Homo sapiens: one gene and its partners. The protein of the gene in region 2 interacts with the protein of the main gene of each other region in a pairwise test. Each region holds a gene or a part of one and is shown on either strand. Other genes may lie near its edges. The genes, in order: GOLGA3, ATXN7, MEGF8, TXNDC11, FBN1, MEGF6 and ITPRID2.

What was found.
Region 1: the proteins of ATXN7 (region 2) and GOLGA3 interact in a two-hybrid assay, tested with the Homo sapiens proteins (one study listed by BioGRID and IntAct).
Region 3: the proteins of ATXN7 (region 2) and MEGF8 interact in a two-hybrid assay, tested with the Homo sapiens proteins (one study listed by BioGRID and IntAct).
Region 4: the proteins of ATXN7 (region 2) and TXNDC11 interact in a two-hybrid assay, tested with the Homo sapiens proteins (one study listed by BioGRID and IntAct).
Region 5: the proteins of ATXN7 (region 2) and FBN1 interact in a two-hybrid assay, tested with the Homo sapiens proteins (one study listed by BioGRID and IntAct).
Region 6: the proteins of ATXN7 (region 2) and MEGF6 interact in a two-hybrid assay, tested with the Homo sapiens proteins (one study listed by BioGRID and IntAct).
Region 7: the proteins of ATXN7 (region 2) and ITPRID2 interact in a two-hybrid assay, tested with the Homo sapiens proteins (one study listed by BioGRID and IntAct).

Annotation. Positions count from the first base shown.
Region 1 is NC_000012.12:132,818,235-132,822,524, reverse strand, and holds part of GOLGA3 (golgin subfamily A member 3), read left to right. Parts: intron 1-213; 5' UTR 214-396; coding exon 397-529; intron 530-4,290. UniProt on the Homo sapiens protein: Golgi auto-antigen; probably involved in maintaining Golgi structure.
Region 2 is NC_000003.12:63,978,867-63,983,156, forward strand, and holds part of ATXN7 (ataxin-7), read left to right. Parts: intron 1-1,048; coding exon 1,049-1,301; intron 1,302-3,319; coding exon 3,320-3,579; intron 3,580-4,072; coding exon 4,073-4,155; intron 4,156-4,290. UniProt on the Homo sapiens protein: Acts as a component of the SAGA (aka STAGA) transcription coactivator-HAT complex. Mediates the interaction of SAGA complex with the CRX and is involved in CRX-dependent gene activation.
Region 3 is NC_000019.10:42,373,828-42,378,117, forward strand, and holds part of MEGF8 (multiple epidermal growth factor-like domains protein 8 isoform 1 precursor), read left to right. Parts: intron 1-1,679; coding exon 1,680-2,948; 3' UTR 2,949-4,290. UniProt on the Homo sapiens protein: Acts as a negative regulator of hedgehog signaling.
Region 4 is NC_000016.10:11,680,960-11,684,386, reverse strand, and holds part of TXNDC11 (thioredoxin domain-containing protein 11), read left to right. Parts: intron 1-141; coding exon 142-222; intron 223-3,427. UniProt on the Homo sapiens protein: May act as a redox regulator involved in DUOX proteins folding. The interaction with DUOX1 and DUOX2 suggest that it belongs to a multiprotein complex constituting the thyroid H(2)O(2) generating system.
Region 5 is NC_000015.10:48,635,257-48,639,546, forward strand, and holds part of FBN1 (fibrillin-1 isoform a preproprotein), read right to left. Parts: intron 1-4,290.
Region 6 is NC_000001.11:3,502,976-3,507,265, reverse strand, and holds part of MEGF6 (multiple epidermal growth factor-like domains protein 6 isoform 1 precursor), read left to right. Parts: intron 1-1,029; coding exon 1,030-1,158; intron 1,159-1,709; coding exon 1,710-1,844; intron 1,845-1,923; coding exon 1,924-2,058; intron 2,059-4,290.
Region 7 is NC_000002.12:181,901,147-181,905,436, forward strand, and holds part of ITPRID2 (protein ITPRID2), read left to right. Parts: intron 1-619; coding exon 620-1,320; intron 1,321-4,290.

The DNA of each region.
Region 1 (4,290 bases), on a different chromosome or scaffold from region 2:
TTAAGCTCCTTCAGGAAAGGGCCCAGTGTGGCTGGGTCAGCATCTTAGCCTCAAAACCTAGGATGTTGTGGGTGCTCCAGGATTATTTGCTGAATGAAAAAGTTTGTATTTGTTTCTTGTACGTATGCAAATTGGGAACCAAATGCTAATTTTGTAATTGATACTTGAAATCTGACAAGTTTCATAATACATTTTGTCTCTCTCTCCTGTCAGGTATCATGATATTAGCTGGTTTGACATCAAGTCATTTGTGAGTCATCAGATCTTCTCCTGAAAATGGGAGACACAGTAGGGCCCCTCCCAGGAGCTCTTGGCTGTTGCTGATGGCAGAAGCCAAGCTTGTCCAAGGTTCACTTGTAGCCCCTCAGCGTCAGCTCAGCTGGTGTCGTCCTGACCATGGACGGCGCGTCGGCCGAGCAAGATGGCCTCCAGGAGGACAGATCCCACAGTGGCCCCTCGTCTCTCCCCGAGGCCCCACTGAAGCCCCCGGGCCCACTGGTGCCACCTGACCAGCAGGACAAAGTCCAGTGTAAGTCGTGAGGTTCCTCTGTGTGCTGGTCACAGGAGGACCTGGTGTTGAGGGAGGACGTGGTGTTGAGGGAGGATGTGGCGTTGAGACCACTGTGAGCTTTTCACTTAATTCAAAGTTGTTTTTTTTTTTTTTTTTTTTTGAGACGGAGTCTCGCTCTTTCGCCCAGGCTGGACTGCAGTGGCGTGATCTCGGCTCGCTGCAAGCTCCGCCTCCCGGGTTCATGCCATTCTCTTGCCCCAGCCTCCTGAGTAGCTGGGATTACAGGCGCCCGCCACCGCGCCCGGCTAATTTTTTGTATTTTTAGTAGAGACGGGGTTTCACCGTGTTAGCCAAGATGGTCTCGATCTCCTGACTTCGTGATCCGCCCGCCTCAGCCTCAGCCTCAAAGTGCTGGGATTACAGGTGTGAGCCACTGTGCCCGGCCCAAAGTATGTTTTAGTAACTGAATGATGCCACCTTTAGATCAGGCACATTCCTGCTAAACAGAACTCCATTAAACGTGTGGGGCAGCAGCAGTGTTTCCCTGAAGGGATCTATGGGTCTTTATCATGTTCCCTGCCTAAAATTCTACCTTTTTTTTTTTTCGACGTGGAGTTTTGCTCTGGGTGCCCGGGCTGGAGTGCAATGGCGAGATCTCGTTTCACTGCAACCTCCACTTCCCGGGTTCAAGCAATTCTTCTGCCTCAGCCTCCCGAGTAGCTGGGATTACAGGCATGCGCTACCACGCCCAGCTATTTTTTGTATTTTTAGTAGAGATGAGGTTTCTCCATGTTGGTCAGGCTGGCCACGAACTCCCAACCTCAGGTGATCCGCCCACCTTGGCATCCCAAAGTGCTGAGATTACAGGCGTGAGCCACTGCGCCCAGCCATTTTTTTTTTTTTTTTTTTTTTTTGAGACGGTGTCCTGTTCTGTCGCCCAGGCTGGAGTGCAGTGGCACCATCTCAGCTCACTGCAACCTCTGCCTCCTGGGTTCAAGCGATTCTCCTGCTTCAGCCTCCCGAGTAGCTGGGACTACAGGCACCTGCCACCACACCCAGCTATTTTTTGTATTTTTAGTAGAGACGGGGTTTCACCATGTTGGCCAGGCTGGTCTCGAACTCCTGATCTCAAATGATCCACCCACCTCAGCCCCAAAAAGTGCTGGGATTACAGGAGTGAGCCACTGTGCCTGGCCGAATTCTGCCTTTTTGATTGGTCAGTTGCTGAATTTGTAATAGCTAGAATTCAGAAGTCGTCCCGTAGAGATCTAAGGATTACGGAGCACAGTGTTATGTTAGCCCCCTGGGTTATTCACGTGTCAGAGGGAAAGGGTGACTTAGTTATTCACTCAGTTCTCATGCCTCTTCCTGGCCAGGAGGTTCAGTGCTTTAAAACTGTAGACTACAGATGTGCTAATTTACTAGCAGAAGTCACAGTCTAATTCCTGTAAAATGATACTCAGGCGCTTAGGATGGCTTTGCTGGTCCTTGCTACATAAGCATCAGGTGAGGCAGATAACAACTTAGAGGCCCAAGATCAAGAGTTCTGAGACCCGCGGCCGTGGAACCTGCTCTTAGATCTGCTGCTCAGGAGCAATGTGCCCTCGAGCAAGACGCTGGGTTAATCTCAGCCTCCGCCCCTTTTTCTATTTTAAACATTTTATTACTGTTTTTAGAGTCAGGGTGTTGCTCCATTGAGCAGGCTGAAGTGCAGTGGTGTAATCATAGCTCACGGCAGCCATGAACTCCTGGGCTTAAGTGATCCTCCTGCCTTGGTCTCTGGGGTAGCGGTGACTATCGATGCGTGTCAGCACGCCTAGCTGATTTTTTTTTTTTTGAGACGGAGTTTTGCTGTTGTTGTCCAGGCTGTAGTGCAATGGTGCGATCTCGGCTCATGGCAACCTCCGCCTCCCGGGTTCAAGCGATCTTCTGCCTCAGCCTCCTGAGTAGCTGGGATTACAGGCATGTGCCACCACGCCCAGCTAATTTTGTATTTTTAGTAGAGATGGAGTTTCCATGTTGATCAGGCTGGTTTTGAACTCCCAATCTCTGGTGATCCCCCCACCTTGGCCTCCCAAAGTGCTGGGATTGCAGGCGTGAGCCACCGCGCCCTGTTGCCTGGCTCATTTTAAAAACTTTTTGTATAAACAGTCTTGCTGTTGCCCGGGCTGGTCTTGAATTCCTGGCCTTGAGTTATCCTTCCACCTCGGCCTCCCAAAGTGCTGGGATTACAGGTGTGAGCCACTGCGCCCGGCCTAACCCAGTAACTTTTATCTGAAATGCAAGGTTCCCCCTCTCCCAGCAGTGGAGCTCACGGGTCCTTTGCATGAAAGGCGTCTCAGTGCGTTGGTCGGGTGCCCGTGGTCTGGCTTCCTGTCTGGCACCCCTGCTTTTATTCTGGTTTTTCTTTCGGGAGGCATGACAGTAAGTATCTGCTGTTAGTTTGAACTCACATTTGCAAGTGAAAGAAACCTTTTCTTTTTTTGAGACGGAGTCTCGCTCTGTTGCCCAGACTGGAGTGCAGTGGCACGACCTCAGCTTACTGCAAGCTCCACTTCGAGGGTTCACGCCATTCTTCTGCCTCAGCCTCCCAAGTAGCTGGGACTATAGGCGCCCGCCACCACGCCCAGCTAAGTCTTTGTATTTTTAGTAGAGACGGGGTTTCGCCGTGTTAGCCAGGATAGTCTCGATCTCCTGACCTCGTGATCCACCTGCCTCAGCTTCCCAAAGTGCTGGGATTACAGGCGTGAGCCACCGCGCCCGGCTAAGAAACTCATTTTTAATTTGCTTGAGCAAAAAGCAAATTTGCTGTCCTGCATGCACGTGGGATCCGAGGAATGCTGACCCCTGTGAGACACGGAGGTGTTGCCGGGCCTCCAGAGCCACCGGAACCAGGACCAGAACCCCCTGAGGACCCTCCCTCCCCCCTCACATGTCTTGGTTCTTTGACTGTGAACTGGCCCACCCACCAGTCAGCAGTTAGGGGGCAGGGAAAAGACTGAAAATCACTTCATTGAAAGAAATCTTTCTTTGTTCCATTTGATGAGGAAATATGTTTTAGTTTGTGTTGTGGGTAATTTGTATATAATCATTTTAGTGGGTGAACTGAGGTAACACGTGGGTATAGAATTGTCACTGGTCCAACCCAGGCCTTTACCCAGCAGGCTGTCATCAAGCAGAAGCGCGGTTCTGGGCTGTCTCTGCTTCACGGGTGGTGTGATGACATCATCCACCTCTTCGCCTTAGGGTCCTCGCCTTGGAGGATAAGCTGAGGCTTTGAAATGACTCCAAAATCAGCCTTTGTAAATGTGAGGCTGTGACTCTGATTAACACTGCTGTTACCAGTGCCTGCTAGAAAGATTGTCAGCTGTGTTTTAAGTGTTTGTGGTTTTCGCTTGTTTTAAACTGGCGACTTTCATAAGATTTCTTATTGGTTTTACTTAAATGGAAAGGAAACATTGGCTGGGTGCGGTGGCTCACGCCTGTAATCCCAGCACTGTGGGAGGCCGAGGCTGGTGAATGGGGAGGAGTTTGAGACCAGACTGGCCAACATGGTGAAACCCCATCTCTACTAAAAAGACCAAAAATTAGCCAGGTGTGGTGGTGGGCACCTGTAATCCCAGCTACTGGGGAGGCTGAAGCAGGAGAATCGCTTGAATCTGGTGAGTGGAGCTTGCAGTGAGCTGAGCTTGTGTGACTGAACTCCAGCCTGGGCAGCAGAATGAGACTCCGTCTCAAAAAAGAGAAGAGGAAATGTTACTGTCGTTACTACATAAATT
Region 2 (4,290 bases):
CCATTGAAGTCTTACTTGTGGTCATTGATCATCATGTGCTTAATGTTTTAAATACTTATATAGCTCCTGTATTGTGATAAGGCAGTGTTGGATCACATGCATTTTAAAACTTAGAGTTAAGCAAATGTGTAATTTTAAATTAATTAATTAAAGGCAGCCACTAAGGTACTCAAGCGGATAAAGTTACCAAATGATTTACTTGTTTCTGATGGTAACATTCTTCAACAGCTCTTGATTTATATTAGTATGGATTACCTTACTCTAAGAAAACCTGATTCTCCAGTGGATAGATTTATTTTCAGCTAAACCTTTGTAGTCTGTACTTAACCATGAATTACTTCCTGGTTTAAAAAACAGGCGTAGCTATTTGTGGTATTTTTGTCTTGCGCCTTTGGCATCTTAGCGGTGTGAACCGGAGCTATGCCATCTGTAGTCAAGTGAGATTATTAAAAAAGGGGGGGTGGGAAGTGAAATGATTCACTGGAAAATTTCAGCACAGATTCTTAGGGAACGATAAGATAACCCTAGAAACATTCTTATTTGGTGTCATCTGCTGGTGGGTAGTGACAGGGAAAAAAAAGAAGGTACAACTTGTTTCTTAAGATTTTGCTATTTTGAAAATCAGAGAGGTGCGGTGTTAGAAAGGAAGAAAGAATTGCTTGCAGTGTCATTTAGCAGAGCTCTGCAGATGAATGAATAATTTTCCTCTCTCTTAATGCAAGTTGGAGCCAATGAGGTTCATTTTTAGCACGCAAAACCCAAAAGGCAATATTCTCATGTTTACGATGGTTGTCTAATTTCCTGATGGGTGTATGTGATAAAACTCTTTATGCTGAGATACTTCAGAAAGAGAAGGACCCGTTCCTAGAATGCTAAGTAAGTCTGTGGGGCCTAGATGAGCCATTTCTGAAGTCTGCTGAGTTTAACATACCTTCACTTAACGACACGTGTTTTAACCTGAATATATTGATTTCAGGGAATTCTTCCAGAATTACATTTGAGATTCGCCTAAAACATGATGTCTTTTTTTCTTTGCTTTCGTTTTCAGAAAGAAGACATAGCTCATCCAGCAAGCCGCCTTTGGCCGTTCCTCCCACTTCAGTATTTTCCTTCTTCCCTTCTCTGTCCAAAAGCAAAGGAGGCAGTGCAAGTGGAAGCAACCGTTCTTCCAGTGGAGGTGTTCTTAGCGCATCCTCATCAAGTTCCAAGTTGTTGAAATCACCCAAAGAGAAACTGCAGCTCAGGGGGAACACCAGGCCAATGCATCCCATTCAGCAAAGTAGAGTTCCCCATGGTAGAATGTGAGTATGGCCAAGAGGGTTTTTAAAGCTTACCTGCTGGAAATGAAACTGTGTACACTAGTGGCATGTGAGAGTGCCTGTGAGTAATATAAAAGAGAGTCTACTTGGGGAAGAATTCAAATGTATGTTGTATTGTTTCTTGATGTTTCCCTGTCATGTCATAGGAAACTTTTCAGAGTAGTAATAGCAGTGATAATAAGGTTACTAACATTTATTGATCCATTCTTGTGTGCTAGCTACTGAAACCTAACTCTATGTGTGTACTATGTCACTTATCACAACAACCCTATGGAATAGGTACTGTTACTATCCTCGTTTTCCAGATGAGGAGAAGGAAGCTTCGTGAGGTGGGGGAGTTTTGTCCAAAAAGGCCTCAAGTCACATAGGCCTGGATTTGTGTCCCATTTCTGTCACTTCTTAGCTGTAGGGGTTTGGGCAAGGCACTGTTTCTGTCTAAGAATAACAGCCACTATGCTGGGTTATTGAGAATATTTTAGTTAATATATGTCTAGCACCTGGCATAGTGTCTGGCCATAGGGGACGGTTAACAAATGGATACTGGCACTCCTGCTACTGCTGCTGTGGATAATAGTAATGATAAAAAGATGCAGAGATTCCCAGATGCTGCTGTAGAATTTTTGGGGGTCTACGGAGCAAATAGGGAAGCAGTGCTTCCTCCCTTCAGCCTTAGGTTCACATCACAGCAGTGATGAGGGAAGACTGAAGGAAGTTCACACCTGCCAGGCATGGCTTTGGCAAGTTTCCATGGTCACTCAGTAGATTGACAGGTTTCTTGAGGTCACGTGAGGGAGCAGCCACGCACTCCAATAGGAACATGCTTCGCCTTGTCATGGCATCCCTCAGCCTGGTGACGGATGGCTTTTCTTGGGCCAGCCTGCTTTTGGAGGGTATAGCACACATCGTAGGTCCAAGATCCGGTAACCTGGTTAATCTCAGGGTAGGGTCCAGCACCTGCTGCTGCATAAGGACCTTGCCAGCTGGGAGAGGATGTGACATCTTGCAGTCTCTCTACTGCTGTCAGGCTATTCCAGGTACAGTTGTTTGGGGCTGTTTGTCCTGGTTGCTAAGCCCCCAGCCCCTGTTCTTCTGTCAGAAGTACAGTACAGCAAGCTTGGTTTTTGTTCCGGGAGCAGTCTGAAAGCCACAAACGGTGCCAGTGTAGTGTGTAAGTCACTGGCCAGCTTAACAGCTGTTAGAGCACTGACTCCACTGAACAAAGTTTATACAACCTCATTGATTCAAATCTTCTTTACTTAGAGCTAGGCCTTTAGATAGGAACCAGGCCAGTTGTTAGCTTCCTACCAGTATTTTCAGTTTTACCAAGCAAAATGATAGTGTCAGTAAGATTCCAAGATTCATATCTTTGTTAATGGCACAGGTATTCCCTAAGCTCCTGTCATAGAAACATTTTTCAAGGACTGGAGAATTACCACTTTAGTGACACAACATATATTTATTAAACACTAGTCTCCCTTATTGACAGAAGCAAAGAACCTCTTCTTGGAGATATGTTATTTAGCATGTTTGAGTTCTCATAAGTCTTTAGTGACATTTATTGGAAATATTTGCTCACTCAGAAGTTTACTTTGTTTTGATGAATCCTTTCGTACAAATGGCAGTCCTCAAAAGATATTCTCCAAGGGTTCTGCAAATAGTCTTTGTTTCTTTTAGACCTTCTCATGTTTTGCTTCTTATAGAAATTGCATTGCATTGGGTATCAGGTCTGAGTTTCCCATTGCCTCATGTGTAAAATTTTTTGAAATGATGAAAGACCAGGCAAATTTGATGGTCCACTGAGGGTTTTGCCTCACCAGAAGGGCTTATAGACTTAATCAGTATGAACCTTACTAACAAAACTCATAAGGAGCCTTCCAAGAGGCTGGCCCTGTGCAGCGCTTGGGTAGGCCCAGGCTCTATCCTCATCCCTCTGGCTCACCATTCACCTGGGGGCTGCTGAGGCACTCAGGCACTGGTTTTCTCACTTCCTCCTGTGACAGCATGACACCCTCTGTGAAAGTGGAAAAGATTCATCCGAAAATGGATGGCACACTACTGAAATCTGCGGTGGGGCCAACCTGTCCTGCTACTGTGAGTTCCTTAGTCAAGCCTGGCCTTAACTGCCCCTCAATACCAAAGCCAACCTTGCCTTCACCTGGACAGATTCTGAATGGCAAAGGGCTTCCTGCACCGCCCACTCTGGAAAAGAAACCTGAAGACAATTCCAATAATAGGAAATTTTTAAATAAGAGATTATCAGGTAACTTCAAATTTTCTTTCTTCATAATGCTTCTCTATATATTAAATGGGCATTCGTGGGGAGCAAATCAACTGCAATCTAGAATTCCTATTTTTAAAACTGGTCAACTTCAGCTTTAGGAGGAAGTTCCTTAGTTAATATGTTTGTTCTTTTCACTCTTGGGTTTTAAAGAGCATGAGTGTGTGTGTGTGTGTGTGTGTGTGTGTGTGTGTGTCATGTAAAAGTAGCTTTCTAGTGGTGTATTTCTGAAGGAAGTAATACAGACTTAAACAATATCTTTTCTACCATCTGATGGCAGTAGTCACCCCCTGTCTTAGTGATGTTGCTGCTTTGTTGCAGCACTCACACGTTGTATATTTTTTATTTTATTGATAATGTGGCTTTTATTCCAGCTATAATTTATCTAACTGTTGATTTCTTCTATTTTCTTGCTTAAAAAATACATGGAGGAGAGTTTGTCAGGCCACATGTAATGCCTGTGTTCTTTTGACAGAAAGAGAGTTTGATCCTGACATCCACTGTGGGGTTATTGATCTCGACACCAAGAAGCCCTGCACCCGGTCTTTGACATGCAAGGTAGGTGGACTCCTGAAAGTCAAGTCGACCATCCTGATAAACATGGGTGACTGGGATGTACCACACTACTCCCACAGTCTCTCTAACCCAGAGAAGATGCTCTGTGGATTGTTGTGAATTGTGTAGGTGAAGGAA
Region 3 (4,290 bases), on a different chromosome or scaffold from region 2:
TCAGCCTCCTGAGTAACTGTAACTATAGGCACACACCACCATGCCTGGCTAATTTTAAAAAAATTTTAAAGACGGGGGTCTTACTATGTTGCCCAGACTGGTCTCGAACTCCTGGGCTCAAGCGGCACTCCTGCCTCAGCCTCCTGAAGCACTGGGATTACAGGCATGAGTCACTGCGTCTGTTTTCTCTTGGTTCTAATAGTGATTGCAGTAATAACTAGAATGCCAGGAGCGCCTGCCACAGAGCTGGATGCTGTGCTGTGTAGACAGTGGTGACAGCATAGATATGAAAGGCTTTGCAAGACTGTGCTGGGGCCTCAGTGGGGTACAGACTTAAGAGGAAGACAGATTCAGAGACATTAAATGTCCTAGCTGGGCACAGTGGCTCATGCCAGCACTTTGAGAGGCTGAGGCGGGCAGATCACTTAAGGTCAGGAGTTCGAGACCAGCCTGGCCAACATGGTGAAACCCCTTCTCTACTAAAAATACAAAAATTAGTTGGGTGTGGTGGCGGACACCTGTAATCCCAACTACTCGGGAGGCTGAGGCAGGAGAATCGCTTGAACCCGGGAGGCAGAGGTTGCAGTGAGCCGATATCACACCACTGCACTCCAGCCTGGGCAACAGAGCGAGACTCTGTCTCAAAAAAAAAAAAAAAAAAAAAAGTCTCACCCCAGATCAGGTGGTCAGTTAGGCTTGGTGCCTGGAGTGACCCTGGTCTGATCTCAGAACTTGAGTGGTTTCCACTAAGCCACAGGAATCATAGCCGTTATCTATCCAGCCACACATTCATTCAGCACACAGTCATTGAGCACCTAGTATATGGCAAGCACCGTGCAGGTTGCTGGGGACACAGTAGGGAACAAAGCAGGCAAATGTTCTGTCTTTAGGAGTTTGCATTCTCATGGAGGCATCAGAAATGAACAAACAAGTCAGATGCTCGTGTGTTAGACAGCGAGGAGCGCTAAGGAAAGTTAAGTAGGAAGCGGGGGCTAGGGCTGTTGGGGAGTGGGAATGGTAGACGCAGGACACAGTGGCCAGGGAAGGCCTAGGTGAGAAGGAGGCTCTTGAGCAAAGATCTGAAGGAGGCAAGGGGGCTTGACAAGCTGACAAGTGACAGGAGAACCATGCAGGCAGAGGGTCCGCCAGTGCAAAGGCCCCAGGGTGGGAGGGCGCCTGGCACAGTATAGAAGAAGCATCCAGGCAGGCAGGCGAGGCTGGCTGACCCTGCGCCGAGTGCCATGCACATGATCTCAGTGGTCCTGTGAGCGAGCCGTGGTTACTCCCTGTGTGCAGAGCTCATGGGTTAAGTCTGTGTGCTCAGGCTCAGTGAGGTTAAGTCACTAGTCCAAGGCCACACAGCTAACAAGGAGGTAGAGCCAGAATGCAGCCGCGTTCTTCACTGCTGTGCCTCAGAGTGCCAGAGGCCTCAGTATCAGGGTGCTCAGGTCACTAGGGTGGCACCAGGGGCAGCAGTGCTGGAGTGCCAGGTCCTGGCAAGGTCTACACTGTGGCAGAGAAGGTCCGGGGGGTCACAGGGAAGTGACTGGGGCAGTGGGGGTGAGGCCCAGGGCAATGGCTACTTAGCAGTGGGTATAGAGTATTCGTCACTGCTGCTTGGGGGACAGGCTGGCACCGCACTCAGCCCTGATGGTCACCGCCTCTAACCCTGCCCGCAGTGCGCCAAGTGCCGGGAATCATTTCACGGGAGTCCGCTGGGCGGCCAGCAGTGCTACCGCCTCATCTCGGTGGAGCAGGAGTGCTGCCTGGACCCCACGTCCCAGACCAACTGCTTCCATGAGCCCAAACGCCGGGCGCTAGGCCCCGGCCGCACTGTCCTCTTTGGCGTGCAGCCCAAATTCACCAACGTGGACATCCGCCTGACGCTGGACGTGACCTTCGGGGCCGTGGACCTCTATGTCTCCACCTCCTATGACACCTTCGTGGTCCGTGTGGCCCCTGACACTGGCGTCCATACTGTACACATCCAGCCACCCCCAGCCCCACCACCTCCACCACCCCCTGCAGATGGTGGGCCCCGGGGGGCTGGGGATCCAGGAGGAGCAGGGGCCAGCAGTGGGCCGGGCGCCCCAGCAGAGCCACGGGTACGGGAGGTATGGCCGCGGGGCCTGATTACCTACGTGACGGTGACGGAGCCGTCGGCAGTGCTGGTGGTCCGCGGCGTGCGGGACCGGCTGGTCATCACCTACCCACACGAGCACCATGCCCTCAAGTCGAGCCGCTTCTACCTGCTGCTGCTGGGCGTGGGAGACCCAAGTGGGCCCGGCGCCAACGGCTCAGCCGACTCGCAGGGCCTGCTCTTCTTCCGGCAGGACCAGGCCCACATTGACCTGTTTGTCTTCTTCTCCGTCTTCTTCTCCTGCTTCTTCCTCTTCCTCTCACTCTGTGTGCTCCTCTGGAAGGCCAAGCAGGCTCTGGACCAGCGGCAGGAGCAGCGCCGGCACTTGCAGGAGATGACCAAGATGGCCAGCCGCCCCTTCGCCAAGGTCACCGTCTGCTTCCCACCTGACCCTACTGCCCCGGCCTCCGCCTGGAAGCCGGCTGGGCTCCCACCTCCCGCCTTCCGCCGCTCTGAGCCCTTCCTGGCACCCCTGCTGCTGACAGGGGCCGGTGGGCCCTGGGGACCCATGGGAGGGGGCTGCTGCCCACCAGCCATCCCCGCCACCACTGCTGGGCTGCGAGCTGGGCCCATCACTCTCGAGCCCACAGAAGATGGCATGGCTGGCGTGGCCACACTGCTGCTCCAGCTGCCTGGCGGGCCCCATGCACCCAACGGCGCCTGCCTGGGGTCAGCCCTCGTCACACTGCGGCACAGGCTGCACGAGTACTGTGGGGGTGGTGGGGGTGCTGGGGGCAGTGGGCATGGGACTGGTGCGGGCCGGAAGGGACTGTTGAGCCAGGACAACCTCACCAGCATGTCCCTCTGACATGCCCAGGGTTCTCATCCACAGCAGCTGGGTCACCTGATAGGGCCGCCCTGGACTTGGGGTCCCTCCACCTGGGGGCCCCTGGACACTGTCTACTTGGAGACCACTGGCCCCCTTCCCCCAGGGTTGCCCAGATGGGGCCTCCTTTGTTCTGCATTCAGCAGCTATTTATCGAGTACCTACTCTGTCAGGCACTGTCATAGGCGTGGGGCAAAGCAGGAACCAAGAGACGAGGTTCCCTGATCTCATGGGACTTAGGTTCTGGTGAAGGGAGACAATCAGTGCACATGCACACACCCCACACGCATACACACATGAACACATGCACATGTGCACACACAAGTAAGATGGCTTCAGAGAGGGAGAAGCACTGTGAGGCCTCCAGAGGATGTGGCAGTGAGGGACGATGGGGTGAAGTCAGCTGGGCATTCAAAGAAGCTAGACTGAGAACGCCTGAGAAGAACCAGCTACGGGAAGAGCTTTGGGAAGCAAAGGCAGAGGCCCTGGGGTGGGAGCAGGCTTGTTTTATTGGAAGGACCAGAAAACTGGTAAGTGTGACCCAGATCAAGTGTGAGGAGATGAGGCTGGGGATAGTCAGGGGCTGGATCACCCAGGGCCTTGTGGGCCCCACATAGGGTTTTGGGTTTTATTCTCAGGGCAATGGGAAGCTGTTGGATGGTTTGATGAAGGGGAGTGACAGGATCCGATGTACCTATTTAAGAATTTAAGAGGGTCGGGTGCGGTGGCTCATGCCTATAATCCTAGCACTTTGAGAGGCCAAGGTGGGCTGATCACAAGGTCAAGAGTTCGTGACCAGCCTGGCCAATATGGTGAAACCCCATGTCTACTAAAAATACAAAAATTAGCTGGGCATGGTGGCACACACTTGTAGTCCGAGCTACTCGGGAGGCTGAGGCAGAAGAATCGCTTGAACCCAGGAGGCGGAGGTTGCAGTGAGCTCAGATTGCGTCACTGCACTCCAACCTGGGTGACAGAGCGAGACTCCACCTCAAAAAAAAAAAAAAAATTTAAGAGGTCACTCAGTTGTGCTGTGGAGAATGGACCGGAGGGACAAGAGGGGCAGCAGGGATGGTGGGCTGGAGTAGGGTGCTGGCAATGAGGGAGTCTGGCTCAGATGTGGGATGTGTATGGAAGAATATAAATGATGGTGTGGATGTCAGGGTGAGGGAGGAGACAAAACCACGATGACCCCTAGCTTTGTGGCCTGAACTGTGGGTGGCTGAGGGGATCGTTAATTGAATGGGGCAGACTGAGGCTTGTGAGGAAGATCAGAGTCTGGTTCTTGACATGAGATGCCCTTCAGACATCTCTTCACTCAGGT
Region 4 (3,427 bases), on a different chromosome or scaffold from region 2:
GTAGTACATTCATCGAGAAGGGACTAGCCCAATGTGGGGTGTAAAAAATGCACCAGGTTCTTGAAGTTATCTGAGAAGGTTCTTTCAAGTTGGTGTTTCTTGGGCTGATCATCTGCCATTTCTGTTCTTTCCCTTTACCAGGATTGACGTGTCTCAGAATGACCTTCCTTGGGAATTTATGGTCGATCGTCTTCCTACTGTCTTGTTTTTTCCCTGCAACAGGTAATGCCAAATTTTTGTCACTGGTGGGCAGTTGGGATTCTTTTGTGGAGGTCTGAAAATGAAATGGGTTTAAGATGTAAATCATTCATTATGTTCAAAAAATGTTCCCTTAGGAACCAGGCGTGGTGGCTCATGCCTGTAATCCCAGCACTTTGGGAGGCTGAGGCAGGCAGATTGCTTGAGCTCAAGAGGTTGAGACCAGCCTGGCCGACATGGTGAAACCCCATCAGTACAAAAAATACAAAAATTAGCCAGGCATGGTGACATATGCTTGTAATCCCAGCTACTCTGAGGCTGAGGCACGAGAATCTCTTGAACCTGGGATGCGGAGGTTGCAGTGAGCCAAGATCACACCACTGCACTCCAACCTGGGTGACAGAGCGAGGCTCTGCCTCAAAAAAAAAAAAAAAAAAAAAGTGTCCTTAGGGACATAAAAGGGTTGTAGTGTCAGGATGTTATGTGTGGTATGGATCTTTTAAAGGTTGTTTTTCCCAGTCTATCTCTTACCCGAGCTTGAATGTGGCCGTGAGAATTCTTAGCTTTCATGGCCTGTATGAACATATGGAGGACGCAGAGACTGACAGGATTCTTCTGTTGCCCTGGCTGGAGTGCAGTGGTGCAATGTTTGTGTGGGGCAAAACAGCAGAGAATCTGTGGAGCCCTGCCTGCCCCAAGCCTTCCACTTGCTTGTCTCTCAGTTGGCCTCCCAGCAGCTCCTCATCCCTCTCGTACAGAGGACAGGGTGGCTTTCTTACCCATGGCACGTCCTTTTCTCGGATTCCAGGAGGCCTACAAAGGGGTTTTCTCCCATGCGTGCAGACTGCTGTGAACGTCCGCCATGGGATGGTCGCTTGATTTTTTCACACTTGCCTAATCAGTATTCCAGGTGCAGTTCTTAACGGCAACTACCCCGGAAGCCCCTGCAAGCAGGACATTAACAAGGGGGAGCGGACTTCCAGTTAGTAAACGTAGATGCAGATGTTTTAGTGGAAAAAGAAATTAACTCTTGGTCCTTTAGAGCCTAATACACTGGATGTTTGCTCCCTTTTTATAGATTCCCTTTGGTTTTTAGAAAGTTGAGTCCTTTTGGGGACCCACTCACATGACTTTGACAGTATCTTCTCTCCAGGGGAAAGTGTCTGCAGCATCATTTAGGGAGTTCCCTGGCTCGCATGTATGACGTTTGCTGTTTTAATTTCCTGCCTCCCTTTTGCGATTCAGCTTGTCATGTTTCTCTAGGAGAGTGTTTCCTTCATATCTATTGAATCATTCCCTTGGTTTTTGCTTTGTATCTCAAAGAATTTTTGCGGGAGTACTTCTGTGGTAGTAGGGTCTTGTCACATCATGCACTAAAAACAGAATGTGACTCACCCTTTTCTACTGCTGACTGAGTTGTGATGAGGCTTTTTCTTTCTAAGAAGTGTTTAAATTACCACATAGTCCAGGAATCACGGACAGTAACACTAACACTTTCATCTGTGTGGGCCAGGAGTTGGGCATGTAGTTTAATGACGTATAATTTTTGAATTCCAAGCATAGTTTGAAAAAATATGAAAATCTTAGCACCCAGCACATGCCTTTTAATGAAGAAGTTCTCAGCAGCTGGCAGAAATGCATCTGTGTAGAGAGACACAGGCGGAACAGGTGGCAGGGTGGGGCGTCATCTGGAGGCCTGCGTCTGGGCTGAGTGACCTTCGTTCTTAGGCTGCCTGGTGTGGGAAACGTGAAGATGTGCGCATTTCTCCGGCCCCATGCTGGGCACTTGCTGCAGGCCCTTACCCTTGTCGTTTCTAAATATCGAACATAAGAAGACTGTCCACTTCTCTTTTAATGTAAGGATGTTGGTAAACCAAAGCTTTATGGCTTTGGAATGGAATTTTTCTCATTTCCTAAAAATAAATGGTAGAAGTAAAGTATGCTCATCATGAGCTGGTCCCAAGCGAGTGTTTGGTTTAGCCAGAAGGTAAATGGGCAAGCAGCGTGAGCTGACAGCTTGCAAAAGAGGAAATGAAAAAGGCTGTTGGATAACATGTAGTAAGACCTTTTTCATTGTCCACCTGCTTATGCTATTTTTAGTGAAAAGAATATGAAATTGTATATTTACTGTGATAAAATATAAACTTGTGCATGTGCTAGGTGGAGATGTTCACAGAGGGGAAAATGTTGAGGTGTTAACATTGATGACTTCAGAGGAGTGAGATTGCAAGTGATTTGAAGGTGCTGCTTGTATGTTTTTACATCCCTTGCAAATTGTCTACAAAGAGCATGTCTTGATTTATAAAAATCATGAAGGAAAAAAATGCAAGAGCCTGTCCTTGGGAGGAAGAGGAAGGGGTGGGGCCTTGAGGGAGACATAGCCTTCCTGTGCAGAGGCATCTTGGAGCCACTTGCTCCACCGAGCAGGTGCTCCTCCAGCCAGCACTTGCGTCAGACTCTGTGTGACATTGCAAAATATAGGTGCTCTGGCCTGGCCCTGGGCCAGGGTGATGAGGGGGAGATGGGTGCTCCTGTCCACCAAGAGACTCTGATGTGTCCCAGGGGAAGAATCACAGTTTTTTAGAGGTGTGCCCTGCCACTCCCTCAGGGTTAGAGGAGAGTTGCATAGACATGGGGACCTCTTCCCACCATAGTTTCACATGACTGCTTTCCTGGAAGTAGACTGTTGACATTCTCTGTCCCTGCTACTTTCACAAAGTGTGGCAGTATTTTAGTGTGCCCATTAGGGACATTGATGGAGAGTGCACCAAGACCTCTTAGTTAGCAGATAGCATGCTCACGGATGTCACTGTCCTGTAAATGTCTGGAGGTAGACATCCTGAGGGATCTTGGCAGCTTTTTCTGGGAAGTAATTCACGTTTACTCTGCCTTACAAGACCAGGCTTGTGCCGCAGAACGTGGGGGCAGGTCCAGCGTCTGGTATTCTTCCATGGGCCCACTTGACAGGGCCACGATGTGTTTTCAGTTGTTGTGGGGTTTTTTGGTTTTCTGTTTTTGAGACAAGGTCTGACTCTGTTGCCCAGGCTGGAGTGCAGTGGTGCAATTACGGCTCACTGCAGTCTTGAACTCCTGGACTCAAGTGATCCTCCCACCTCAGGCTCCTAAGTAGCTGGATCTACAGGTGTGTGCCACCTTGCCTGGCTAATTTTTTTATCTTACTTTTTATACAGATGAGGCCTTACTATATTGTCCAGGCTGGTCTCAAACT
Region 5 (4,290 bases), on a different chromosome or scaffold from region 2:
CTCTGAGGGAGCTGAATAAATAGAGTCAGTGATAACTTCAACCAAAAAAAAGTCACTTAAGTTGAAAAAGTGGTAGTCACAAGAAATTTAAATCTAGGATTTGATATAGTATAAGACACCCACAATGCAAACTTGACTATATTCCTAATCCAATTTTATTCTATTGATAATGTGGCTACTCCATTTATAAGAAAAATAGTACAGTTCAGCTCATTACAACACCAATTCTATTAGCAACTGCAACCTATTTTTACTTATTAGTATAACCCCTAATTTAAAAAATTGAGGTGGATTACACCAACAGATACATACATTTGAGGCTATAAATAGAAATTGAAAATAAAATTCCATACAGAAGAAAGTTAAAACATACCAAAGTTAATAAATTAGAGTGATTGCCCATTAAATTTATTTCATGTATAATCTTAAAAGCTGATTTTCTTAAAAGCAAATGGAAAATGGTTAGATGTTTTGAAATTCTCATATTTGAATAAAACAAAACATACTGCTTCATTAGGAACTTTCATTTTATTCCTGACAGTTGTGAGTTCTTTAAATGCAGAACTGTGGACAAACTAAGATCAATGCCCTAACATGAATCTAACAGAACATGCAAACACAATATTTATGGAGCTTTTTCATTCTGAAGTTACAGCAGCAAAATACAATGAGGCATCCTCAGTAGAGAACTAAGCCAACTGAACTTGATCAAGTTAGAATTAAAACTTAAAGTATCTGATTAGCCTTCTCAAAGATCTATTGCCTCACAGTGGTAGCTGGTCTCCAAAGATGGCTCCACTTTCTCCCCTCCCAGCAGACACATGATGCTCCTCACATCCAAAGGTAGGTCTTAATAGTCCATGCCCTTCAATCTGGATGAGGCCTATGACTTGGATGGAATTCCAGGTCATGCGATTCCAGGCTAAGTTTGAAGAAAGTCTGGTAGTTCCCACTTTTGTGCTCTTGAGAGATCCTGAACTGCCATGGAAAAAGTCTGGCTATGCTGCTCTAAAGACCATGTAGAGAGGCCACGTATAGAAAGGGGACAACCTGAGACTATATAAAGGAGAATCAAGGAAGCCAGGCAATGTCGAGGACATATGAGTCCATGTGACCCCAGCCAGCCAGCCCCCAGCCCTTCGAGTTAGCCTACGGTCAATATGTGGGATTAACACATGTGACCAGGGTCAGGAGGCTGTTGTTCAAGATCCAGCCCCAACAGACACTCACTCTGAGCAAGGCCTAGTCGCTGCATCTGGGGCTCAGTCTCCCCATTTGAAAAAAAACACATTCAATGGCTCCATCCCGGGGGCAGGTTCAGGCAGGAGACTGCATGAGAGACAGCTTTAAAACTTGGAAGGCCCCCAGCAGAGCCAGACAAGTGGCTCTTTGCTTCCTTTATTCCCCTCCTCAGTGGGTCCATTTAGATAAACCACACCCAAGTAAACAGGGCTGCAGGCGCCAGTGCCTGGTCACAGAACCAGATGCATATGTGAAGAAGTCATACTGCCTGTTCCAGCCCAACTGACATTGTGGGGCGCAGAGACAAGATTCCCCACTGTGTCCTGTCTAAATTCCTGAGCCACAGAATCATGAGAAAGAATAAAATTGTTGTTTTAAGCCACGAAGTCTGGGGCAATTTGTTACGTAGCAATAAAATAACTCAAACACTCACAAATGAAAATACTTTGTTTCATGGTAGTAGAGGGCCTAGGCCTGATCTCGTTTCCCTTTATTTTCTCTTTATGGTGCTACAATGACTTCGTGTATGGTAAGTTTGAATATATATGGAGGTGGGAGCATTCTAGGTCCTCCTCGCCTTTGTCTTTCACAACCAACTAGTCAAGTACTGTCTGCATTAACTCTGGAACCACCTGAGTCTCTTCTTTCTTCACCCCTTTCACTGAATTTGCTCAGACCATCGTGGACTCTCACTGTGACTCCTATATTAGCCTCCTAAATCCAAATCTCCCTGTCTTTAGTCTCTCTTCTCTCTAATCATCTACCCTTCACACCTCTACCCAGTGGCAAAGATCTGATCATGTTCCTATCTTAGAATCCTTTACTAGCTCCCCGTCCTTGCCTTTCACAACATCAGTGACATTTATATTTCCACTAGTCCCTCTCCTTTCCCTAACAACATTGCCACCTATGTACGGGCTCACAAGATTGCTCAAGGTTGCAAACTGCACAGCTCCAGAGGGCACTCGTTTCATAGACTGCACTACAAACCATGTCACTTGGAACCATGCCGTGCCAACCCTGCCCAACTGCAGTCAATGTCCTAAGACCTCAGACACTTCATATCCCTTTCCCTTGATGTATTTTTCACTCATCTTTCCTTTATTTCTCAGCTATACTTACTCCAAGCTCTAGTCTATATAATTAACCATACCCAGTTAATCAGCTCATCAAAATTGCTCAGAGTTCAACTATCAAAAACTATTCTATTGAACATGTGCCGCATACCCAGTTCCTAGATGTTCCTAGAGATAAATAAAACAAGCAAGATCTCTGCCTTCAAGGAGTTCTCACTCCTAGTAGACAGTCACTTTTTATCACGTAGATCAGAGGTTGTTAAACTTTTTCTGTAAAGGACCAAAGAGCAAATGTTTCAGTTTTATGGGCCATACTGTCTCTGTTGCAACTACTCCACTCTGCTGCTGTAGGGAGAAAGCAGCCATACATAATAAGTAAATAAACAGGCATGGATTTGTTTCAATAAAACTCTATTTTCAAAAAAAGTGAGCTTGGTCTTCAGTTTGTTGACCACTGATAAACTTTTTTTTTTTTTTTAAGACAGGATCTTGTTCTGTCGCCCAGGCTAGAGTGCAGTGGCATGATCATAGCTCACTGCAGCCTCAACCCTCTGGGCTCAAGTGATCCTCCTGCCTCAGCCTCCCAAAGCACTGGGATTACAGGAATGAGCCACCATGCCCAGCCCTAATAGACTTTCACTGTAAAGTCACTTCTGATCAATCCCATTCCCACAATGATGCTTCCCTTGGCTTGTAACAGCATCTGCCATCAATAAATGTTGAGTCTTTCCACATAGCAATGGTGGGAGAAGATTCTTGGGAAACGAAGGTATAAAAGGTATGAAAGAAAAAAATTTACCAGCTACAAGATTTATTATAACTGTAAAGCAGTAAAATATTAAGATTAAGAGCTCCAGCTATGAAGCTAGATTTTCCAACTCTACCACTTACTAGTTTATGTCCCTGGAGTAATTACTGAAACTCTGCATCCCTTGTTTCTTCATTTGTTAAATGAATAAATAAGCTTAATTTTCCTCATAAAGGATTTATGTTTTAAAGGAATTAGTATTTGCAAAGTACAATCATAAGTGATACATCAGAGCTTTTTTTTTTTTTTTTTACCATTATGGCTGCAATTTAATGTAAAAAATTGGGCTGAGTTTACAGGCAACCAAGGTTAAAAAATGAAAAAGAAATAATTAAATAACTCATATGACTGGTCGTGATTTAAGACACATACCAATTTCCACTGGAAAGAGAAATACTTCTTGCAACCCTATTCAGAGAGATTTCTCACAGGGGACATGACAGCAAGAGGGTTCTGAACAACATAAACAGCAATGCCTCCAGCTCAGAAGCCCACACAACGCCCAGCAGGCTGCCTGCAATGGTTACCTACCACCCTCACACAAGTCAAGGTCTAATATTAAAATATAATACGCTGTCCAAAGTCCCACTGGCTCTAACATCCTATGATTCTTTCTGTTTTATTAATGTCTTTGCAGAAAGTTTCTTGTTGGACTAAATAATACTGTGTGATTAACCATACTTAGGATTTGTGAACTAGCATGAAAGAATATTAGGAATTTTAAGTGGAATTTTACCAATGTCTTGGGCCTGCATTTTTGTCTGGTGGAATGAAAAACCAAAACCATAACTAAAATTAATGGAGAAAGAAAAGTTAACGTTAAGTTTTGTCTTTAGAACTTAACCTCTGCATACCTCGGCTCTCACATCTGTGAAGGGAAGCTTATGAAAGCACCCAGCTTGTAGAGTGGCTATGAGGATTCAATGAATTATCATATGCAAAACAGTAAGAACAGTGCTTAGCAACATATAGTGCTTAGTAACATATAGATGTTACCTAAATGTTACCTACCATGGCTGCAATTGTTATTATGTATTTGTTTAGACTTAATACCAGACCCCCTTTCCAGGGACGCTGTCCTTCTGTGCACTCACGGTTCCTGAAGTACCCCCAGGGTTATGGGGTATATGTCTCTGGCCTTCCACAGAACTAAACTCAAGCTAG
Region 6 (4,290 bases), on a different chromosome or scaffold from region 2:
TTTCGATGGAGAGTGCAGCTAACGTATCATAAACTTTCTGCCTTTGTGAGAGGAAGACAGCCAACCCTAGAACCTGTCCCCCAGGTGGCCCCGTGAGCTTTCCTGGCCGTATGTGCTGGGCTCTGCAGGGCTGGTTGCCTGGTGGTGGTGGGGACCCCAGGCAGCCACACAGGGCTTCCTACCTCTTCCCTGTCAGTGTGCCTCCCTTCCCCACTTTGTCTGCCCTTTCTATTCTACAGGGTGCTGGGGAACCCCCGTATTCATTCCTGGGTGCTGCACCCCTGGGATCGTGCTGTACCCTCCAGGCTGCCTGCAGCGTTGAGGGGTCACCTCCCCTTCTCCAGGCCTCCTCTTTCTGTCTCGGCTTCCGCCTGCCTCTCAGATGAGGATGTTTGTCTTTGGATTCAGGGCCAGCCTGGATAATGTAGGGCTACTATGGCAAGCACTGTTGCAAGAAATGCAACTGTGCCTAGTCTCCAGGTCCTGGGGACTAGGACGTGTATGTAGTTGTGGGGGTACCTTCAGCTGACTACCGCCTTCAGTAGGAGGAAGGACGTGGGGCAGGACCCAGCCAGAGAGAATTGTTTGGGGAAGAAAGGCGAGGACCTTTCTAGCTCTGGGGCCACCTGCGGCTTGGGCCTGGGACCTTGTCTACTGGGGCCACGTGTCCTTCCCGCTTTGAGGCTCTGAGATCAAGCTTAGTGACCACCAGGGGACAGAAGTCAGGCGGCTCCTGATGGGGGCCAGACTTTGGGGAGAGTGGGGCGTGAGCTTTGTGCATCTCTCCAGTGTGGGCCGAGGAATGTGCTCTTCCACCCGCCCTTGCCACAAACCCTGGGGGCAGGGGATGTAGGGGACAGACCAGCCAGGGCAGACGGCCACATCCGGAAGGCTCACCTAGTGCCCTGGCGGGGGCTGCTCCCAGCTCCTGTGCTGGGCCCTGGGCCCCCGCGCATCCTACCACATGGGGGGACCACATGTGGTAGGCTGGCTGCCACCAAGGTTCACATGGAGCCCCGCTGCCCCCAGGCTGCCCCAAGGGCTACTATGGCAAGCACTGTCGCAAGAAATGCAACTGTGCCAACCGGGGCCGGTGCCACCGCCTCTACGGGGCCTGCCTCTGCGACCCAGGGCTCTACGGCCGCTTCTGCCACCTCAGTGAGTCTCACTGCCCCTTCCAGTGTCCATGGTGGTGGCAGCGGGTGGAAGGGATGGTCCATGTCCTGTTACCTGTAGTCTGGGTTAGGATGAGGCTATCGGGGCCCAGCCAGGTCACCCACTGGGATGTAGGTCTGGGGTCCGCCATGAGTCTGTGGACTCCAAGCCACATCCTCTCGACTGTGACTGTGCTGGCATCCAGGGCGTCTGGGTGGATGGTCCCCAACCTTGTGCCTCCCAGCCTTGATGGGTGGTAGGGCTGCAGATGAGGGCAGGGCCAGGCCTTTTGCAGAAGCCTCCGGGGGATGAGGCCTATCTTGGCTTTTGGAGATTCCTGGCAGCAAGGCCAAGCTCTGAGTCCCTGGTGGGGTCACCCATCCCTGGGGTTCAGACACTCAGGGAAGGGGCGGTGGGCTGCAGGGGGAGAGGTGGAGGAGGACAGCTCCCTACATGATCTTGGCTGTCGTCCTGGCTGACCCAGGGCTGGTGGAAGCGGTCTGGGAGGGTGGGGCTTCAGACGGGAGCCCCCCTCAACGGTTCTGTGGGTGCAGCCTGCCCGCCGTGGGCCTTTGGGCCGGGCTGCTCGGAGGAGTGCCAGTGTGTGCAGCCCCACACGCAGTCCTGTGACAAGAGGGATGGCAGCTGCTCCTGCAAGGCTGGCTTCCGGGGCGAGCGCTGTCAGGCAGGTGAGTCCAGGCATGGGGTCTGGGGGCGGGGGGCGCCAGGGTCGGTTAACCCCACCCACCCCTCTCTCACGCCCTGCAGAGTGTGAGCTGGGCTACTTTGGGCCGGGGTGCTGGCAGGCATGCACCTGCCCAGTGGGCGTGGCCTGTGACTCCGTGAGCGGCGAGTGTGGGAAGCGGTGTCCTGCTGGCTTCCAGGGAGAGGACTGTGGCCAAGGTGAGTGGCCGGCCCCTGGGGCTCCCGGCAGTCTCATTGTGGGGTGTAGGCTGCCTGCCTGGCTGGAGGGTAGGCTTCAGAAGGGCTGCACAGCTGTCACTATCGGCCCCCTTTGCCTAAGCCCAGGTGGTGCCTTGCTACCGGTGTTGCCTTGCTACCGGTGTTGCCTTGACGGCCTGTCACATGGCAGTGGTGCGGCTGCTAGTCTCAGTCTGGTCTGCTCAGGGCAGCAGCTGCTGTCTGCCCAGGGCCTGACCTGGGGAGGGGCCAGTTTCTCTCCAAACTCCTCCCTGGTCCACTTGCTTCTTGCTTGACCAGAACAGACTGGGCTTCTCTCAGAGGCCGGGGCAGCAGCTCCCTCCTCACATGTGAGCCGGCAGCAGAGGCTGCCCCTGGAGGTGGCGGTTCAGAGAGTGGTCTGGGTGCAGTGCCGGCCTGGGGTCGTGGCTGCAGGCCCCTGCACGTGGATGCTTTGGCCTGGGTGTGAGCAGGCACAGAGCCTGGGAGCCCCATGCCCACATAGCAGGCAGGGGAGGAGGCTGTTAGGAGCTGGCTGAGAGATGGACCAGCGGAGTCCATGCTTAGGTATTCCTGGGAGACCCGGGGACCAACTGCCCGACGCGATTCCAGCCCAGCGTGCGTGGGGCTGGGGGCTTTGCCAAGAGGGCTGGGAAGGTGGGGGTGTCCTGGCTGCCCCAGCTTGCACTGGCGGGAGGTGCAATAACCAGGACAACGGTGTGTGGTCCTGGCCAAGCAGAAAGCTGACCAAGCTGGTCTGAGGCTCAGCGGGATGGTCACTCCTCAGTCTCATGACCAGGATAGGAAATACCCGAGTGTGTCATCGGCTTATGAGGGGAAGGAAGACGCCCTCGGCATGAGTAATGGAGCTGCCGCAGCGGCCGCCAACAGGGCCTGGGCAGGTCGGAGCCTCCCTTGGCATGGCGCACGCTGTCCACGCCCATTGGCCGGGAGAGACGGGAGCCACGAGGGCCTGCTGTGTGACCAGCATGACCATGGCCTGGGCTGGAGAGAGCGAGAAGCCCGGCGCCAGCCCCCTCCTCTGCCTCCCCTGGGGCCAGCCCCCTCCTCTGCCTCCCCTGGGGCCATACCAGGGGGCTCTCTGGACTCAAGCCCCCCCAGCATGGGCCCTTCCCCTCCCCACCTCCATCTGGGGAATGAGAAGGGGTCCGCAGAGGGAGCAACGTCCACCCAAGGACCCACTAGCCAGCTCTTAGGCCACCCTGGCCTCAGCCACTAAGGGCCGGAGCACTCTAGGCCAAGACTCCTGACCTGGACTGGCAGAAGCTCTGTGGTCTCAGGCCGGTGTGCAGCAGCTCTGAGCGCCCACTTCCCATCTGTGCACAAGCCCTAGGGCTTCATCAGTGCGCGGACATGGGACTCAGCTCCTCCTGACTCCCCAGCATCCCCTCCCCACCCTTCCTCCCGCTCCCCACCCCCAAACGTGTACACACATACATGCACACACCACTTACACACACATACACACATACATGCACACACTGCTTACACACACATACACATGAATGCAGGCAGGTGCATGCAGACACACACCAGCAGCTCACCCTCCCCTGATGCCTGTGACCCTCCTTCCAGTCCCTGCTCTCTATACCAGAGACAGTGAACAGGCCTCGCCAGAGAAGCACCTCCACCACTCCCGGAGCCCCCAGTTCCTGAGAGGAGGAAGGCTCCTCCCCTGCCCCTCCTCTGCTCCTCCTCTGCCCCTTCCCCTCTTTTCTTTAAGAGCCTGTGGTGCTCCGAGGATAAGCCACAGGCGATGACATCCGAGTGTTGATAGAAAGATCAACACTCTTTATAAAGATAACATCCCCTCTTGTTGGGTCTGGAAACTGTTCCTGCCCAGCACTCATCTGCTCCAGTTAGTGGAGGGGGGTTCCCTGACGCCACCCAGCCCTGTGCACACTGCCCAGTGCCCTAGGGCACGGTGAGTGCCAGGCCTGTAGTCCCAGGGACGTGCCTGTGTCCCTATGGGCGGGTGCCCCTGGGGATGGGCCCTGGTGACAAGGGTTCACCAGGGTGTGTCCTCAGGGCCTCAGCGGGGTCAGGTCTGCTGCTCCGCCTGTATTACCGGTGCTCCTCCCCAGGCAGGGCACATCCTGGCTCTCAGCCCCGCTGTGGGCCTTCTGACACGTGGGCTCTGTGGATCTTTGGCATGCAGCACGGGGTCTCTGTCAACTGCCTTCTTGGGGCTGC
Region 7 (4,290 bases), on a different chromosome or scaffold from region 2:
GAACCTTATTGTTGTCTACAGATTGCTTTTATTCAAGAAGAAAAGAAGTAGGAGAGGAGCCTTGTTAATCTTAAATGAAGTCAGTCTGTTTCAGGAACTAGTCTGGCTAATTTGATCAGTTTCACTCATATCTTTGCTTGTTTTCTTTCTGTTAGCCAAAGATTCCAAAAATAGGATTCCAATCCTGCATTGTTCATGGATCAGTTTTAAGAGATCAATAAATCCCTCACCCTGCAAATTAGGTATAAAATATATGCTTACATGCATTTTCTTAGGAGAATTTTGAAAGAGTCTTAATGGAGTTCAAGACTTCAGAATAGAATCACAACTGTAGATTCAATAGCTAGTTCTTTCTGTTTTATTCAATGTTGCCATTATGCTTTGTGCTTATTTCTGATTTTTTAAAAATACAAATTCTAGTGCTTAGAGTAAAAATCTTGCTCCTTCCCACCCAGTGAATGTAGAGAAGGTTTAAGTGTTAGATGAGGAAAAAATAGGGTTTTATAATCTTTGTGATCTAAGTGTAGTTTTTGGAATTCTAAACAATAATATGCATTTAATATATGTGTATGTATATATATAAATATAAACATATCATTAATATTGTTTCTTTTGGTAGGCCGTTTTCGTCAAATTGAAGTGCTTACTACTGTGGCCAATGCGTTTTCTTCTTTATATTCTCAAGTCTCCGGGACGCCCCTGCAGAGAATTGGAAGTATGTCCTCAGTGACCTCTAACAAGGAGACAGACCCACCTCCACCTTTAACTCGAAGTAACACTGCAAATCGTTTAATGAAAACACTCTCAAAACTGAATTTATGTGTTGATAAAACAGAGAAAGGAGAAAGTAGTAGTCCTTCTCCATCAGCTGAAAAAGGAAAGATTCTAAATGTTTCAGTGATTGAAGAAAGTGGCAATAAAAACGATCAAAAGTCTCAAAAAATTATGAAGAAGAAAGAGTCATCTTCTATGTTGGCTACAGTTAAAGAAGAAGTCTCTGGTAGTTCAGCAGCTGTTACGGAGAATGCTGATAGTGATAGAATTTCTGATGAAGCAAATAGTAATTTTAACCAAGGAACTGAAAATGAACAAAGTAAAGAAACTCAAAGTCATGAGAGTAAACTGGGTGAGGAATCTGGTATTGTAGAATCCAAATTAGATAGTGATTTCAACATATCCAGCCACAGTGAGCTGGAAAATAGCAGTGAGCTGAAAAGTGTCCATATATCCACACCTGAAAAAGAGCCTTGTGCACCACTGACAATACCATCCATAAGAAATATAATGACACAGCAGAAGGACTCCTTCGAAATGGAAGAGGTAGGTAAAAAATTACTGAGACTGGTTTCAAGTTGCAGACTAGGAAAAAAAGTACCAAAAATGCTTATAAAATGAGAGGTAGCTAATAGATTTATACTAGAAAAATTTATTCTAATTTTGACTTTCCAGGTTTATGTTTCACAAACCAAGAATTGGTCTCAGGATAATGTGATGTCGAGGTAATGGGACAGTTCAGTAACTCCTCCAGATCTTTATCCACTAGTTGATATTTGAACCTTAACCCTCTTTTCTCTCTCAAGGGTAAGATTTTGATGCTCAAGAAAGCCCTGAGAGAGTATATTTAAATTCAAAGCAATATTGCATAATAGTTAGAAACACAGGCTTTGAAATCAAACAGGGCTTTGAGTTTTGTCTGCCACTGAATGACTGTATGCCTTTGGGCAAGCTTTTCTTAACATATCTCAGTGGTAAGGATATGTGAAGGCGGCTTTGGGGATAGTTCTTGTTATATGACTGGAAAGAACATGAAGATATTACGTACCTGCATGGGGAGGATAGGGACCCTAGAATTAGCAGGTTTGAAAGGCCACTGAATAGGGTTTCTGCAAGCCCAAAAGACCAATGTTTGGTTACTTGTTATTTGTGTCCAGTAATATACCTGATAGTTAACATAAATTTTTAATTGGAAAAGATAAAAGATACTTATTTTGAATGAGGTTCAGCTAAAACTGCTTCTGAATAGTAGGAGCTGAATAGCTTGGGGCAGGAAAACTGATTTTACCAAGCATCTACCCTGTGCTGGGCACTGTTCTTGGCTCTTGAAGTACTTCATTGCAGTCTGTGAGGCACATGGTAGTGGTCTCATTTTATACATGAGGAAACTGAGGCATATGTATGCTAATGAAGAGTTGTGGCTATAAATTATATAATGCGCAATTTGTCTTTTGTAATTTATTACATTAGATGCGTTTTAGTAATAGTTCACAGTAGTTTTAACATCACACACCATTATTTTAGGGAATTAGAAAATGAAATAATTGATTCAGCTCATAAATGTCCTCTTAGGTGAGTGTCTCTCTCTCTTGCTCCCTCCCTCCCTCCCTCAGATTAGTGAAGATTTTTCATTTATTGTAAAATTTCAGTTGCTGATACAGATTTTTGCCTTTTTGTGGTCTGTTAATACTTTAATTACAACTGAATAGTGAAATAAAAAGGGAGTAGGAGCAGCACCTTGGAATATTTTACATTTTGAGCTTTTTTTCTTTTATTTCTTTGTATATGTTTATATTTCTTCTATCTTTTTACCTCCTGGTATAATTTATTTCTCATCGTAATGAGTATGGAAGATGACTGTGATGACTACATTAAAACCTCTGTTTGTTCTTTTTCACTCTGATAACTTTTTGACTTTGTTTTGGTCTAAACTTGTTCCAGCACTCATAATTAAAGTGTAAATTTTTGCCTACCATTAGGGCCCTCTTCTATGACAATTAGATATGGCAGTTAATTTCCTTGTTTAATACAATAGCAGAGCATAAAGATCTAAACAAATTATGTTAGGTAATTGCAAATCTGATATTGGCGACTCCGAGTGAACAACACTCATATTTTCAAGTAAGTCACTCTTCAAAGAAGTCAAGGAAGTTTATTTTTAATTTCTAAAATTCCTGAATTCTAAGCTGTAGTTTTTAAAATTTTTTAAGATGCCATACACAAAAGGTTTTTTAAACACTTATAAAGTGCTAGATGTACTTTTGTGGCAAGTTAACCTTTAATGATAGTCTGGGGGTTTTTTGCCCCCTCTACTGGCAAAAAAGGTTAATGAAGAAAGCAATGTAGCATTGACGTGAACATTTTTTTGAAGTACAAGATTACATGCATTGGTGGAAGAATAATGGGAGATTTTTTTTTTAAATGAATTTATGGTCGACCACAGCTACATTGTAAATATGGGGAATTTTAAAGAAAATAATGTATCTTCAGATATATTTAAAATATGGATAAAAACCTCCTGGAAGTGTGTTTTCATCCCTAAGGGAACATTAAAGAGAGCTTGTAGAACAATGGATAAAGGAAATAATGTGTTAACTTTAATTTCCTCTTCTCCCAAACACTTGAATCATATTGACAAATGAAGAGAACAATCTTATTGAAACTGACTTTTAGATCCTATTCAGTGTAGTTTGTTGCTATTTTTCTTTTGGACCTCTTTCCATGAGGTTTGATTCTTGCTGGGAATTTTCTTCTTGTGAAAACCATGAGTAAATATAAGTTAGAGCTCCCTCTGTCTCAGTAAATCAGTTCTCAGAAACATTATCTGAGCATGAGCTGCTTTAGGAAGCTAGGAAGGAGAAAATGTTGCAGATATGTTGACTGCATGAAGCTGCCTAATCCATCTGAGACAAGAGGTAAGATCCAACAGTCACCAGAAGCAAAGAGACAAAATACTTAAATGTAAAGAGAGCTAAATAGATGATGAGACTGCTCCTGGCCTGGTACAATGAAGTGTCTGTTTCTTATGTTAGAAAAGGAAAAGGCCAGAGACTTTCAGTTAAAAGTCAACTTGCCTTATAAAGTGTCTTGTAGACTGTTTAAAATAGTTATGAATGTTTATAACGATGTTTTTTCTTTTTTTTTTTTTTTTGAGACGGAGTCGCGCATTGTCACCCGGGAGTGCAGTGGTGCAATCTTGGCTAACTGCAACGTCTGCCTCCTGGGTTCATGTAATTCTCCTGCCTCAGCTTCCTGAGTAGCTGGGATTACAGGCACATACCACCACAGCCAGCTAATTTTTTGTATTTTTAGTAGAGATGGGGTTTCACTACGTTGGCCAGGCTGGTCTCAAACTCCTGACCTCGTGATCTGACCACCTCGGCCTCCCAAAATGCTGGGATTACAGGTGTGAGCCACCACACCCAGCCTATAACTATTTATAAAAAGTTATTAAATCCTGTTCTTGAATTTCTAATTATTCCAAATGACTTGCTTCATTAATTCTTGTGTTCTTCT